Linked DNA regions of Homo sapiens: region 2 is linked to region 1. A link means that fine-mapping ties the variant in region 1 to the expression of a gene that starts in the linked region. Tissue or cell type: gastroesophageal junction. Region 1 holds a variant in brackets; the other region holds the start of a gene. All regions are shown on one strand. Distances are from middle to middle.

Region 1 (8,125 bases):
ATCTCCATGACTAAAATAGAGTGAAAATGGGACTTAGAATGAAAAATATATTAGTTTACAGAGAAAGTAGGAATTATCAGAAATCTGCTCCAATTGAGAAGATTAGTAACTACCAAATTATAAGAGGTCATTGTTAGTACCAATTGCCTTCATCTCCCTATGATAATAGAAATATGAACTCATCTTTTCTGGCTTAATCTGTCTGTGTCAATGGTTTTCAGACAAAAGCATTGTGGTGAGAATATGAAGAGTCAGGCCATCCTTGGGGAAATTTATATCCGGCCAGATGATAATTAATATGCTTCCATATCACTGTAAAAGATAGACTTACTCCATGGATTAAATCCATTCATATCTGATAGGGGTATGCCTCTGATGGCCACTGGCCTGGTGACTTCCCTGAACCTGGCCTTGGGAAAGAAGCAGCCTATGCCAATGGAAGACAACTTTTAATTGAGCCCTAGAACTTCTGTTCATTTCTTCCAGCACATTTTGTCAAATAACTCGTTTCATTTTTATCAGGTCCAGGGGCTCAGGGCTATTGGGTAGAGAAGAGAAAGGTGGCAACCATTCTGTATTTGATTCCAATAGGGCAGTGATTCTCAGACTTTAGTGTGCATCCAAATCACGCGATGAACTTGATCATGCACAGGTTGCTGGTCTCCAATTCTAGAGTTGCTAACTTGGTAGGTCTGAGATGAAGCCTGAGTCTTCCGAGGCTGGGGCTGCTAGTCTGAGGACCACACTTTATAAGAAGCACTGCAATGGAGCATATAGATGTTGTTCTTAAACAAATGCTTTCCCATTTTGGTGCATAGACTGTGCTACAGTTGCATGTAAGGGAAAGAAAGGATCAGAGACCAGGAATATGTGTGTAGCCTGGGAGCCAGGGACACGCAGGCCTCTTAAGGCTGATCATTCGGGTAGAATCATGTCTAGAGTTTTGCCTACATAATGAACCTATAGTTTAATATGAGTCTTATATCTTGTACATTTAAAATGAGAGATGATTGAGAAACCATTTCAGCCATTGTATAGATCAGAAAGATTAGTGGAAATAAACGGGAAAAAGGGTCTGGCTTGAAGCATGGGCATTTCAGGCCAGCAGACTCAAGAAACCCTTCTCATAGGGTTGAGGGAAAACCAGAAACAATTGCAGCATTTGTACTTGTCATTTACTAGACATTTTGTAAATTTTCTTTCCCTCTTCCTCTTTTCTTTTTTCTCTTCCTCTTCCCCTCCCACTCTCTCCCTCCCTCCCTCTCTCTCTTTCTAAAACACACACAAACAACCAAAGTAATAAGATATTTTTAGGCAGCAAATGGCATATGCTTAAGACTCATAGTGAGAAAAAAAATTTTCAATATCCTTAAGATGTGTATTACCAAATTTCAATTGTGGAAGAAAGTATGCTTAAGAAGTAAACACTTGATCTTCTTGCTCAGAAAGGTTTGCTCCTTTTAGCATTCCACTGGGAGTACATTTAAAAAAATTCTCTTCCCTTCCAAGTAGGTAACCATTTAGCTTCTGACATGAAATAGCTGATAACCATCTCTTCCCTTTCAAATGATTGAAATCGCTGTTGAAGGGATGGTTAATTTTTAATGTACTTGTTTCAAAAGTTAGACGAACTTTTAAAAACTCAAGTCAGAAACGAAAACGGATGTTATCCTATGGACAAATGACATCAATTGAAATGTACTTTTTTTCTTCAAAGTGATTGACGTAATTTTCTATTAAAGTGACCTTTGCTAGAAATGTTTTCCCTTTAATGATTTCCTGTCTCTTTGGCTCAGCAGCCAACAGAAAAACTGGTTTAAGCCTGTTTCAGCTACTTGATGTTGAAATGGGAAGAAAAGTGGACTCTGAAGCAAGCATAGCTAAGGTGCCATGTGACAGCCATGGCAATCCTAACCGAGCCTTCTAGCTTCTACCATCACAGCTCTCCTTGGTCTTCTCATTGAGTCATATCTGCTACTTTAATGCAGCCCCACCCCCCCTTTTTTATTATCAAGCATCTGTGGTCATGCAGCTACACTCATAGAACTCCAGGTGAATATGCTAACATAATCTGTACCAGTTGTAGAAATATAAATATATTATAATCTAAAGAAAAATGAGGCAAGGAAGAAGCTGAGATCCAGATATGAAAGGACGTTGTAAAGGATGGAGTGAGAAGTGAGAATATACATATACAACTTGAAAGAGTTTGCTGTTCTCGGGTCCGTGGTTGAGAATCAAGTGTGTGTGTGTGTGTGTGTGCACGCGTGTGTGTGTGTAAACCAACCCTTTCTAGTTTGTTGTTATTTGCCATTTTCTTTTGGTCTGATTTTTCCCTATCTTTAGAAACTGGCTCTGGTACAAAAATTCCTGAATGTATTACTGATTGCGTCTTAGAATTTGCTATTTTAATACATTTGTTAATCTAAAAGTCACTCTACTTTTCTGACCCATGTATCGACTACCGTAGAGAAGGTTAGAAAAACACACCAGCATTTACTTGGTTTGTAGAGTGATTTAAATTTTAATTGTGAAGAAGGATTGTTTTCCTTTAGCATGTGATCCTGTTTGTAATTTTCTATCACAAGAGGCAGAAACATTTTTGTGTCAGCATTATCTAATAGAAAGTGACCCTGACATAAAAGTCTTAGCCATTGAAATTTATCTAGGAAATGAACAAGAAGTAGTACACAGAAACAAAAAAAAATGCTTTAAGTAATAATCGGTGATAAGTAGTTATTATGATTTATTTCACTACTTGTATGAAAAGTATCTACGGACAGAGTTAATTGAAAAAGCATGCATAGTCTCCTCTCTTGTAAGACTTCATGCTGGCTCAACAAAATCCATGCTGCTTTTCAACACATATGTACACGCATGCATAAACACACACACTCACACATATTTCTAAAGCCACTTATTACTACTACTTCCTTAGGGATAAGAAATGCCAATAGTAAATAGGAAATAATGTGTGATTTTTCTCGTTTGAACTTATACTTGAATTTGTTGGAAAGGCCCCCTTTAGCTTTAACATTATAAACTGTGCTCAGCACACCAGCCAGTCTCCCTATACGTATTTATTCATGATATTTATTTATAGATCCTATCTGAATTAGAACATATTGAGGTACAGAGTAATGAGATTAAGACATAGAATGATTTTTTTTTGTCCATTACTTGTAATGGGATTATTACTTGGGATTATTTCAGAAAAAGATTCACTTAATCCACAGGTCTTAAGTACAATCCAAACTGATTTAGGCCAGTTGAGTTAATTTCAATTTGTTCTAGAAAGAAAGAAAAGCAATGATTTT[G/T]TTGCAGGAGGATCTGGAGTTTGACATATATATGTATCTGTAAAATCAGCCAAAAAAAAAAGCTTGAATAATGTAAGAATAATTACAAATGAACAAAACTAGAGGAGAGAAAATGTGAAAAAGATTATAAAGTTGAATTAAATTTTCCCTGAGTCTCCAAATATCTCTAGATATATACCTGACCCAACACACTACATAACTCTGGGTTGCCACTCTTTTCTTTCCCAGCTATATTATGTCAAAATCTCTTCTACTTGTGACAAGACATCATGCTTGGTACTTTGGTTACCCGTACAAAGTGAGTGGTGAGGTATTTCTTGAATAAGTCAAGTCCAACTGGCTTGTCCTGTAGAGGACAGAGAAATTGCTATTACTCTCAACCTTTCTCTGATTTGTAGTCGGACAACATTCAGTAGACACCAGAGAGGTTTGTTTGGAGGTGAGGAGTGCTTCCCATTGAACACCTTTCTATCCAGAAAATATAATTGTCATGGGTTAACAGCAATGCTGAGTTCAAAATCCTTAGAAATAAAATATAAATAATATATATGTGATTTTCAGTAAATATTTTACATTTCTATCACTTTTATTATATATTTTAATCTTTTTACTTTGGTACTCTGTGCCTTCTATTCTTTTGAGTATTTTATTGAATAATTCACTGAAAATCATAGATTCTACTTTTAGTAACATTTTATTTTTAACGAAAAGTTTTAAAATTCAAACTGTTCAGCTAGCACATTTGGGCATTTTACAGGGATAAATTTGGTGAACATAAGCATTTAAATAAAATATTAGACATTTAAAAATTGCTGTATTTGGAAATAAATCATATCAACTCTAACAACATATTAAATCAGAGATTCACCTTATAAACATAAATATTTTTTCTATCTATCTCACAACTGAGCTTCAGAGCTAAGTGTATAGTCATACTGTTTACTGATCTGAAAATCTTAAGAGTTGCAAATGAAGAACCTGCTTTTTCCACAGGTCCAAGAAGGAGAGAATACTATGTAAGAAAGGCAATCTTTATTTCTGCAAAAATAACTCTGCCAAGGCCAGGCATATTACCAACACACCAAAGTTGAAAGTGGAGATCATGCTAGGCTATCTTATTCATGCTGATGTATAATCTAATTTCAAGTTTTTCACTTTGCAAAAGTTCTTGTTTCAAGGAAACCAATTCTCCCTGCCTACACCCTATTTTTATCTCTGAAATAAATAAAAAAATGCAGGATACCCTTGGAATGAAATTTTTTCTTATTAGGAGCTGACTCTGCCCTTCTTTGAACCACAACTGCATATTATCACTTATCAATAAATCATTTCAATGACTTCCGTCACTCCATCTCAGGCTGGAAAGTCACACTTCCTTTGGTCTGATAAACCTTTTAGGTTACTTCTTTAATGTATGTCAAATGTATCTATACATCAAATGACATTTCAAGAGCTTGAAAGATCTCATTAGAGTGGTGTTTTAAAATGGCTGAGTTCTATTTTACTGTAAAAGAGAAAAAAGATGCAACTTCAAGTGACTATGTATTTACCCTTCAGGTATTTATGTGTTTACCTCTCTACCCCTGTAGACCATGAGCTTCTTTGGGCTGGGTCTCTCTGCTTAATTATCTTTTTTGTTTGTTTGTTTTTTTAACACTCTCCTTTGGTGAAATGCCTTGAACAAACTAGATTATCAGCAAATTTTGAATCGAACTTTGAATTTTCTAGAATCACATATCTTGTCTGCCTCACACCCCCATTCTATGCCATGGAATGTGGACAGGAGAAACAACAAAAGGAAAGAAGTTCTCAAGGACAGCATCAAGACGTGTGGAAATAGGTATGGTTTTCCTTAGCTTCCCTCCTCCGTCATCTCATACGCACACACAAACACACACACACACACACACACACACACCCTTCTACCTTCTTCATGTTCATTTATAATCCAATATTAATATTAATATTAATTTTAAATCCCACGCTTTACTTGCTTTATGTAAACTACTTGCCCTATATGCTGAGATAATGTTAGGAATTTGTTTTGTTAAATTGTCTAATGTCACAATTCTAAGTGGCAGGAGTGGAATTGAAAATTGTGTTTATATGTCTTTTCTTGTAAAGAGAGAGATGGAAGTCTTGCTATGTTATTCAGGCTGGCCTTGATTTCCTGGGATTAAATGATACTCTCAACTTAGCCTCCCGAGTAGCTGGAGCTACAGGCTATGTAGCTGTATTTTATTCTTAGAGGTGAGGTATCTCTCCTCCTCATTCCACCTGTCCTGCTGTCTCTGAAACTCCATTTATCTTGTCCCCTCTAATCTTGCTCTATCTTTTACTACTATCATGTCAACATTGTAAACTTCCTCATTCTATTGTAGTTTTTTTTTTTCTCCTAAGCATCCTCATTTCTCGCCTAACCTGAATTTGGCTACGTTGACTTTGTGCCTCTTTGTGGTTACAACCTTTTTGCCCTCTTTTTCATGAAAAGATAGTCTGCACTCCTTGTCCCCACTTCCTCATTTTCCATTTACCATGCAACTCACAGCTGTTTGGCTTTTGTGCCAAACAGACTGAAATTACCCTGGCAAGGGTAAACCACCAAAAGACTTATTTAAATGTTTATATATCTGGAATAAAGACCTATAGTAATACATTTCACAGGGTGGATACATAAGCTCTTTGACTTTCATAATTCCTAGTTGCCTTCTATGAGACCAGTTGTCTTCTTACGACCTGACCTCTACTTCTAAGTTTCTCTCATGAACATCTCTTCTGCATACCATTTAAACTGGTGATCTCTCGTATTCTATTCTCACAGCCTACCCCTCTTCTTACTTTAAATCTCAGCCTCCTTATATATCACCCTCTTCTCTTTTACGGAACCCATTTCCGATATGCATGTGAGACACACATGTAGATACTAAGAGAGATACTGTAGGTAGATATCAGATAGGACATCTATAGCCTTGATTTCCGTAGGGGCAATCTAACTTCTTGCCACATATTTCCAGTCATATATTCCAGAAATATTACTATTTAACGGGCTCTTTTTGAGAAAACTCAAAATTTTTTCTTCCATATTTTCTTATTTCTCATCTCATAGCTTTGTAAAAAGCATCACTGTACACCTAGCCTTCCAGTTTTTCATTTCCCATTGAATCCTATCCCTCAACCATCACATACAATTAATTGCCAAATCCATTTGATCTTTCCTCCTGAATTGTTCTGAAATCTATTTCCTATTTTGCATGACACCAACTAATATTGAGTTCAAGCAGGCTTTTGTTTTAATTAGCATGAAATAGTGAAATACCAAACTAACAACCTTTTACCTTCAGTGTGTCCCTTCTTCCCCACTTTATCAGCCTATCCATCTTTCATCTTGTAGCCAGAGTGAGCTTTCAAAATTAAAACTTAGTTCATATCACTCTTTTATAAAAATTCTTTATTTTAATTTTTGTGAGTACATAATAGGTGTATGTATTTCTTGGTTACATGAGATATTTTTATTCAGGCTTGCAATCTATAATAATCACATCAAACATTTGGGGTATCCATCAGCTCAGACATTTATTTTTTATGTTACAAACAATCCAGTTTTACACATTTCGTGATTTGAAAAAAATGTACAATTAAATTATTTTTTACTATAGTTGCCCTGTTGTGCTAGCAAATACTAGGTCTTATTCATTCTTTCTAACAATTTTTGTACCAATTAACAATCCCCACTTCTCCTCCACCCCCTCCCACTACCCTTCCCAGACTCTCATAAGCATCCATCTACTCACTCTCTCTATGAGTTCAATTATTTCAATGTTTAGCTCCCACAAATAAGTGAGAACATGTGAAGTTTGTCTTTCTGTGCATAGCTTATTTCACTCAACAAAATGACTCATGTTGTTGCAATTGACAGGTTCTCATTCTTTCTTGTGTGTGGCTGAATAGTATTCCACCGTGTATATGTACCATATTTTCATTGCAATTTGTCTGTTAATGAACACTTAGGTTGCATCCAAACCTTGCCTGTTGTGAATACTCCTGCAATAAACAGGGGAGTGCATGTATCTCTTCAATATACTGATTTCCTTTCTTTTAGGTATATACCTAGGAGTGAGATTGCTGGATCACATGGTAACTCTATTTTTAGTTCTTTGAGGAACCTCCAAATTGTTCTCTATAGTGGTTGTAGTAATTTACATTCCTATCAACAGTGTACAAGGGTTCTCTTTTATCCACATCCTCACCAGCATTTGTTATTGCCTTACTTTTGGATAAAAGCCATTTTGACTGGGGTAAAATGATAACTCATTGTAGTTTTAATCTGTATTTCTCTGATGATCAATAATATTGAGCACCTTTTCATATACCTGTTTGCCATTTGTATCTCTTCTTTTGAGAAATGCCTAATGAATCTTTTTCCCATTTTTTAAATAATCCAATTATTAGATTTTTTCTATTTAGTTGTTTGATGTTCTTATATATTCTGGTTATTAATCCCTTTTCAGGTGGGTAGCTTGCAAATATTTTCTTTCATTCTGTGGGTTGTCTCTTCACTTTTTTGATTGTTTCTTTTGCTGTGTGGAAGTTTTTTAACTTGATGTAATCCCATTTGTCCATTTTTGCTTTGGTTGCCTGTGGTTGTTGGGTTTAGCTCAAGTGATCTTACTCCAGTCCAATGTCCTGGAGAGTTCCCCAAAGTTTTTTTGTCATAGTTTCATAGTTTGAGGTCTTATATTTGAGTCTTCAACCATTTCGATTTGATTTTTGTACATGGCAAGAGACAGACATTTAGTTTCTTTCTTCTG
Region 2 (8,125 bases), 580 kb before region 1:
TCAGGGTCTTCTTACTTTTCAGTGTCACATATACTTCAAAGGAAATCCTCTTAACTTCAAATTAGTAAGAAATTAAATCTATGAACTTCCATGACACACAATGGAAAAGCAGCCTCTGAAAATCAGGAATTTGTTATTAAAGTATAATTACAGAGTTTTCAAAGAAAATACAATGATGTAAAAATAGAATATTATTTACAACTTAACCTCCACTATTTAATGGCACTGTGTCTATCTGCTGTGCTTTCAAACAGGTTAAAATTATCAATAGCTTCTTAAAAGCTAGGTCATCACAGCAAATAGCTAGGGAAACCAATTATGAGAAGGACAGTGAATAACATATTTGGGGACTTAATATACTAAACCTATCCCTTCTGGCCCATAACTGAACTAATTGTGAAGTGACGTGGCCTTTAAATTTGTCTCAGGTGTCCGTATCACCTAAATAAGAACAGATTCATAAGAGCTCTGGGCAGCTCCAGTTCTACCTCTTCACTTTGCAGACCTTGGGAACTCACTGTAATCAAAAATGCTACCACCTCTACTTGGGAACTAAAGTACTGAGAAGTCTCCTTTGATAAAAATACCCATTAATAGGTTGTGAGTACCCCATAGACCTCCGGTGTATAAATTTGCAGAACCAATAATAAAAGGTAAAATTAAGTCATGGCCCTCAAGTTGATAGAGATTATTGATCAGGACTAAAATGGGCTATAAAATGCCTTTGCACACACAAAACATGTATTTGTCCAGGATTCTGCAGCTAATTCCCTTCCACCTTGGATTAATTTTGCAGAAGCCATTTTCACAGGCCCTTTCTTTCACCAGAAAAAAAAAGCCTCCCAAAATATTACATGGAAGTAATAATGGTTAATATTACAGGCAATTATATTCCAAAAGCAATTGCCAGTTTCATCAACTGAGAGGAAGACATTATCAGTAAATCTCCTAATCTAGCTGGTTTTCAGCATTCATTTTATTATATAATCTCACTAGCAGGTGGGAATGGTGGTAGTAAGCTATTTTTTTCATAAATATTCAGCTTTTCAGGGGTACCTGAAATACACAACTATTGACTCATTCCTCATTCACATTAAGAATTTTATAAATATGCATGTTTCTGAATGGGAAGGAACAAAAGGAAAATTGACTATATAGATCATTGAGTGAAAATATAAAAAGATAAAGATATACAAAATTATAACCTATCAAAATTAGCAGCTTCCAACAGTCATAATGAAATTTATTACATAAGATATTTTAACATGTATTCAATGCTCTTTGCAGCTATTTGTTCTGAAGAAAGCATTTTCTAGTCAACTTAATGGAAAACATATGCTTCTATCCTTTTGTTAACTGTCTCTCAAAATATAAGGAATTTAATATGTACTGCAACATCATTGGCATAGCTTACTCACACTTGATTGGGTATTATGAGCAACTGTCTATCATGAGATTCTTAATAAACCCAAATAACACACCGTGGTAATTGAAAGATCTCTATTTTCATTGAGAGAAGACTGATTCAAGAAATTAGATAGCACATGTTTTGCAGGATGATTGAGGATGGGATAATACCCAAAACTATTTCAGAATCAGTTAAGCCTAGAAGAAATCTGGAATTTAATTACCACATGAAAAACAAATATTTAATTCTCATGCAGGGAAGTTCAGAGATCTAAGGTCTCAAACGCATATATGAGAAAATCTACACCTACCTGAAGTTTTGAAACAGAACTTTGGATTCTGCAAATAAAATTATTTTTTAAAGTATGCTAAATCTCATACTAACCTAAGACTTTACTAATATAATCTCCTATACAATATAATTCACACACATATATTTCAATGTTAACATATAATTGGTTTTCAAAGTTGAATCCAATTTTCTTTTTTCCAAGTGACTTGATGCCTTTGTAACTAAAACTCTCCAAATTTTTATGACACTTAGAAATCCTATCAAATAAATGTGTAATGGTTTAACTTTTTAAACAAATTACCTGAATATTTTTCAGAATAATAATGGAAGCAAAAATAGGTATTTGCACCACTTGCAAATATACAAAAGGAAACTGCAAAATACATTTGCCTCCTCCTAAAAAGGCTAACCTGAATCATTTTAACACATATACCCATTGAAAACTGACAAAACAAAAATATTAACAGGAAACCAGCTTTATGTTCAAATAAACTGTTTCCATGCAAAAGTTTTAAGATTATCCGTCTTAAATTCCACAGTAAGGAAATACCACCAAATTAGTAGTGCAGTATATAGAATCCTGAATGCCTTCATGGTGGTCTTCAGTGGGTGAAATATATCTCATTTCACGGCATCCAGAAAAGAAAATATATCCCTGGAACAACATTACATGTGAAATACTTGATGCACATTTTTCCTTGCATGTTGATCCACATGCAGAGATCCAAATTTTATCTTAATGAAAAATCGAAAGTTGCTTATCTTCAAAAAGAATCTTGGACAGTTACTGAGCTGCTTTTCCTTTGCCAAAGAGAAAGGGAGGCGGGTAAGGCATTCAAAGTGACACAGTTCAAAATACTTAATGAAATGTGGAATTGCTAATTCCCTCACTAGAGATCCTCCTCAAGGGACAAACAAAACAGAAAAGCCTCCCCTGAAAAAAAAAAAAATTATTTTTTGGAAAACTTTCCAACAAGCTTAACTACTAAGCATATCTGAATAAGTGATTTTAATGGAAGATCTTCCTGGGTTTTTTTTTTTTTCATTTCTGTAAGATAAAACAACTTTTAGTATTTTCAGTCATAAAACAGGGCCTTATTTCTAGAGCAATTCTACTGCCAGATTCACCATATGTTTAGTGGAGTTCTGAATCTTACTCAGAATTTTCCATTCCAAAGATTGACAATTTGTTATGAGGAGTGGCTCCATTATTCCCTGTATAAAGAGAAGAATGGGTGAGAGAGGAGGACCGTCTACTCACTGGAAATCTGTACCTGATGCAACTATAGGAGCTCAACCTGCGACTTTTCCAAGTAAAGTTGCTTTAAAATCCCCGCTAGGAATTTTCTTCCCTTGCCCTGTAAGATGACAGCCTACTCTTAAGTGGATTTCTGAAGGAAAAAAAAAAAAAGTCCCCGGGTGAGGGTACTAAAATTAACAGCAGAGGGCGCAGTTTCTTTTTATATCTAAGTTTTTCCTTGTATGAATCACTTAATTGGTTATTTTAGGCCCAATAATATTCAGTATTATTTGTATTATATATAGATATCCACAGATCCATACAGGAGTGCAATTCAGTGTCCCTAGCCGAATCCATCAACCGATTAATATGATGCCAGTAAAGAATATGAGAGAATATTCCAAACAGCATCCCTACACCAAGTCTTCCTCTTTCAATTTCCCTTTCTCCCCAGCTGCACAACATGGGATAGTAATGTTTTAATCTAGCACCAATAAAGGCGATTAAAAGAAGGGACTTCAAAAGCTCTCGATGTGGCCACCAGATCCCCAAGGCCGGCAATAGGGCAAGTGTTTTTTTGTTTTTTTTGTTTGCTTTTCCCCAAACAAATATAATTGGCGAAAGAAAGAAAAAATAACGACAAGCCGCCTGAGCGATGTGTGTGGCCAGGTGTGCGTGAGAGAGGGAGAGCGCGGGGCCCCTGTCAGTCGGCGGATGGAGGCTCAGACCCCACGCCTGGGCTCCGGACACAACAAGAGGACGCATCACCGGCCCGGGGCGCACCCCCGGGAAGACTTGTGTGTGGGTGTGAGCGTGTGCCGCTGTGTGTGCGCGTAGGGCTCCGCGCGCTGCCTCCTCGGGGCGCTTTACAAAGTTCCTCGCCCACCCGGAGCCTTCCCTCCCGCCTGTGCATCGCAGCGGGTGGGGCGGGGGGCGGCGGGGGGTGGGGAAACCCGGGGGAGAGGGGCACGGGCGAGAGGCTCGGGTCGCAGTAGGAGAGGCGAGCCGCAGGCACTTACCGTGTGGCTCGTTTGCCCTTGCGCCGGGCGGGAGCCGAGCCGACGGCGCGGGGCGGCGGCCCTGCGCAGCCAGCCTGGTCCGCCTCGGGCGGCGGCCGCAGCAGCGGAGCCCGCGGGCGGCGTACGGGCGGAGGGCGGCAGCTCCCGCGGAGCCTCCTCCCCAGGCGGGAGCGGGCGGAGCGGGAGGGGTGGGCGTGAGGACCCGAGCCGCCGCCACCGCCGCAGCCCGGGGATTCCGATCGCGCCCGGCCGCCGGCGGGAGAGGACCCCGAGGACCGAGAACCCAGCGCCGGCCCGCCACTCCCCGCCGCTTAATTACCTTCGCCTCCGCCCCCGGGGGGAGCCTCCTGCAAGTCGCCCCCTCTCGGAGCCCGCACCCAGAGGGGGAATTCCTTCCCGTTGACGTCCTCTTCCGAAATGCAAAAGATCAGTGACTTTGACAGGTAGATGAGGGGGAGGGAGTAAGGGTGGGCGGAGAGGAAGAGAGGATGAGAAAGGTGCCTCTCCCTCCAAAAATATAGTGATATTAATAATGAGATCTCAGCCTTCGGAGGTCGTGCCAGCCCAGTCCCCTGCTCGCCGGCTCTCCTCCGCGCCTCCTCGCTCCGCTGCCTCTGACACTTCTCGCCTTAAACTTTTACTGAGGGATATTTTTTCTTTTTTCTATTTCTATTTCTTTTTTTTTTCCTCTTTTTTTTTTTTTCAAGCCGCAGGACGATTTTCTGGTTCCCGGGGATCAGAACCAGCGGCCAGGCGGTTCTATGCCGCTTGGCACCGCTTTCATTTTATTTCAGATGAAGACGTTGAGCTTAGTCAGAAGGGGCATAAATCAGGACAATTAGCATTGGCGCCAAGAAGATCCTCTAATACCAATTTCGCCCGGGTTTCCTTCGCGCATTCCTCCACTCAAGTCAGAAATGTCACTGCACATAGCACTGATGGCAGTGAGACGCGACGCACCCAAAGTCCGTTTGATGAAATATACATGGCCCACGACGCTTCTGGATTGCGGCTCCCGGACTCCCCGCCCCCACCAGCGGCTCCCGGCCGGGACCCTGCTCCGAGCGGGCAGCGAGCTCCTGGCAAACTTAGGGGCCAGTGCCAATTAAAGAGTGAGCGCGAGAGCCGGAAAGAGGAGCGGCAAAGAAGCAAGCCCGGGGAAGCCGCAGCCCTCGGAGGGGTGGCATGTACGTTTCACTTAAAAAGCAGATCTTCTTCTGCAACTGCCAGCAAGTGGAAGGATAGCAAACCTTATACTACCTCGAGACCTGTGCGCTCCGAGCGGTCCTAACTCCGTCCCGCTCGCTGTTGCTGTTGCTGGTGCTGCTCCGGCTGCAGCTGCTGCCGCTCCACGACCTCGGGGCGCTGAGGCAACAGGGCCCCCTCCCTCTACTCCCCATCCCCCCCGGCTCCTCCACAGAAGCGCCGTTTCCAGTAACTCCTCGTGTACCTCCCACTTCTGCCGCCGTCCATCCCACCCCTCTCTCTTCTGTCCCCTCCCCAAACCGTTCCCAAGCACACCCTTCGCCGCTGGAAGTGATCACAATGTTGTTTTTCAACAAGCACTTCCTTTGCCCGGAGGCCCCTACAGCCCTAGACTGGAAACTCCTCCTTTAGAAATTCATTCCCCTTTAAAAAGTTGAAGTTCAAGGGAGAGCTGCGCATTTCAGGCTTCCTTGCCTTTTCTAAGAGAAAGACAAATGCTCCGATGCTCCAGGCTTCATTCCCCACCAAGGCGGGCTCAGACTCACCTGGGATCACTCTTAGCTACACATTAACGTCAAACAGAAACAAATCCGAATTTAGATAAGATAGGGAGACTTCCATTAGAAAGAAAGACTATTGCAACAGGGAAAACGCTCTGATCTCAGAAATCTGCAAACCTCTCAAAACCAAACAGAAATCGGCCTTTTTTTTCTATATATATAAGGGGGAGCAAGCAATAGGCAAAGCCAAGTGGATGGGGGAAACAACTCACTTCAAGACCCTCTTGGTTGAACAAGAAATGTGTCTCTGTGGTCCAAGAATTTGGAAGATAAGCTAACAATGGTGAATGTTTCACATTTTAGTTCTTGCTCAGATTTGGGGGGCAAGCTAAATTCCAGGGACCTGCTGGAGAGAAGCCTGACTCATGTTTGGTCAAGGCAAAGTGGCGGGTGGGGGGGGGGTGGAAGAAATGGGCAATTGTGAACACTTAGTCACTATGTGTCCCACAATTAAGGCAGGAGGCTGAGTAATTGGGTCATTTTTCTGTGATGACTGGGGGTGGTGTGGTAAAAGGATGGATGGGGGAGAAGTTTGTTGAGTTGGGCCTATAACCAGGCCCTCCTTGGCCCTGGGCAGCCAGGAAGTGGGCAGGGATTTCAGGCACCCCCAGCCTTCCCTCTAACACCTAAGAGGCCACAATAAGTCGCCTTCGGAATCTCTGAGTGCAGGAATCTGGGATTCATGTGCTTTCCTCTTTCCCACCTTTGTCCTGTAGTGCTGACATTGCAAAAAAGAGTTACCTGCAGGGCTGAAACTCCTACCAAGGGTTCTTAGACAGTGGCCAAGTCTGGCTCTTCCCCCTGTCTCTAGCCATGCTCCTCCAGGTTTAAAACATACTGACTATATGGAGATGTTACTCACCACCTAATCCTCCTTCACAGGCCCTTAGATCCCAGTTCTTTCTATGGGAGCCCTTTGCAATAGGATATAATAAACAATACCAAGAGTGGCCTTCTTATTTCTCGTTGGCCCCTTGGCCTAGATCCTGAAATACAGACAGTTCTCAGCCTTTCCTCTCTCTTGCCCTTCTCTCTCAAGCCAAGAAAGCCTTTCTGAACTCTCATCCTCTGCTTTATCTGGTCATTTAAGGCCCTTCTGTAGTAAAAATAAAATAAATCTATGCAGAGATTAGAGAACTCTCTTCTGGAATATACCAAGATCTTTGTGATTTTGGCTCCCAACCTGGAAAAATACTTGTTTTCATCTGTCAAAATCTTGGAACTGACCTCCCTTCCTCTCTTCCTGTATCATCCCTCATTCCCAGGATTCCTTTGACTATGAGGCAATCCCAAGTAAGTGTGATATGTAAATGGGAACCTCTCCAGTTAGGTAACACCTCCCACTACAGGAGTGGGAGAGTCTTTCAGAGGTGAGTTTTTCTGTGGAACATGTGCTCTGACCTTTGCAGAAGCTCAGTGAATCACCAACTAAACATGTGGATCTAAACTCAAGGAAGTAAATCAGAATCATCAGAGACTTTTCAACATTAAAACCCCTTCCCTTCCAGATCTTGTTCTCTCCTCCAGCAGCAATCAGGTGGTAAGGACTTTTTCTCCAAAAAAGCAGTTTAAGTGGATTTGATATACTTCCCCAAACTAACGTGCATATATTAAACCAGCTTTCCTCAATATACCTTTGCATATTTGTTTATATGATATACACTGATCAGAAATTGACTTTAGAGTTTTCATTGCCTCCAAGATAAATCATTTAGGGGATACCTACCTTTTCTTATCATTCTTTGCTTTTTCTAGCCATATATATATTTAACTTTCTTTGGAAAAAACTATTTTTCCGTTTTTATTTAACCTTTCAACTCTACTTTTTTTTTTTTTCTTTTTCCTTTTGGAGAAGAATGGTTTGATCTTTCAGTTCTCTGGCTTTAGATCTTTGGCTGGTTTCTACACATTCCTCATTCTTCTTCAACTTAGATATCCATTTATTTGTAATCTTGTTAGGTCTCTAACTGTTGTTCATTTTTCTAGGTTCTTAGCTGCCTAAAAATCTTCTCTTTAGAGATTTGGCAGGGTTGTTTCAATATTTGTAACTTCAATATGCCGAAGTGGTAGTGATGGCATATTTGCAATATATCTGGTCCAAAAAGAAATGTGTCTTTTTTATAAATACTGTAAAATACTTGACATAAAGTAGGTGTAAGATAAATGTTCAGTGCAGGTGTGAATAGCTTTAGCTTATTCTCAAGATTCATGGCCTCTTTGGTAACAGGAGCTAACTCTCACCATATTAAATTAATATGTAGATGTCTAAAATATCCAAATCATGGGTGCATTAGACATTCTGGGGTGCTGTAACAAAGACCATAGATTGAGTGGCTTTAAAACAATAGAAATTTATTTCTCACAGCTCTAGAGACTGGAAATCTGAGATCAGAGGGCCAAC

Evidence for each region. PIP is the estimated chance that this variant, and not a neighbour inherited with it, causes the effect.
Region 2: it holds the start of NTNG1, and the variant in region 1 is fine-mapped to the expression of NTNG1 in gastroesophageal junction (GTEx, PIP 0.99).

What each region holds. Positions count from the first base shown.
Region 1 is chr1:106,562,106-106,570,230 of GRCh38, reverse strand. No RefSeq gene overlaps it. Among named protein-coding and RNA genes, the nearest start is that of LINC01661, 250 kb to the left of the region's middle. The variant G/T (reference allele first, on the strand shown) is at 3,318.
Region 2 is chr1:107,137,293-107,145,417 of GRCh38, reverse strand. NTNG1 (netrin G1) reads right to left here and starts at 4,379. Exons shown (of 8, transcript NM_001113226.3): 1 at 4,278-4,379. RefSeq lists silencers at 3,685-3,964, 3,985-4,274 and an enhancer at 4,208-4,739.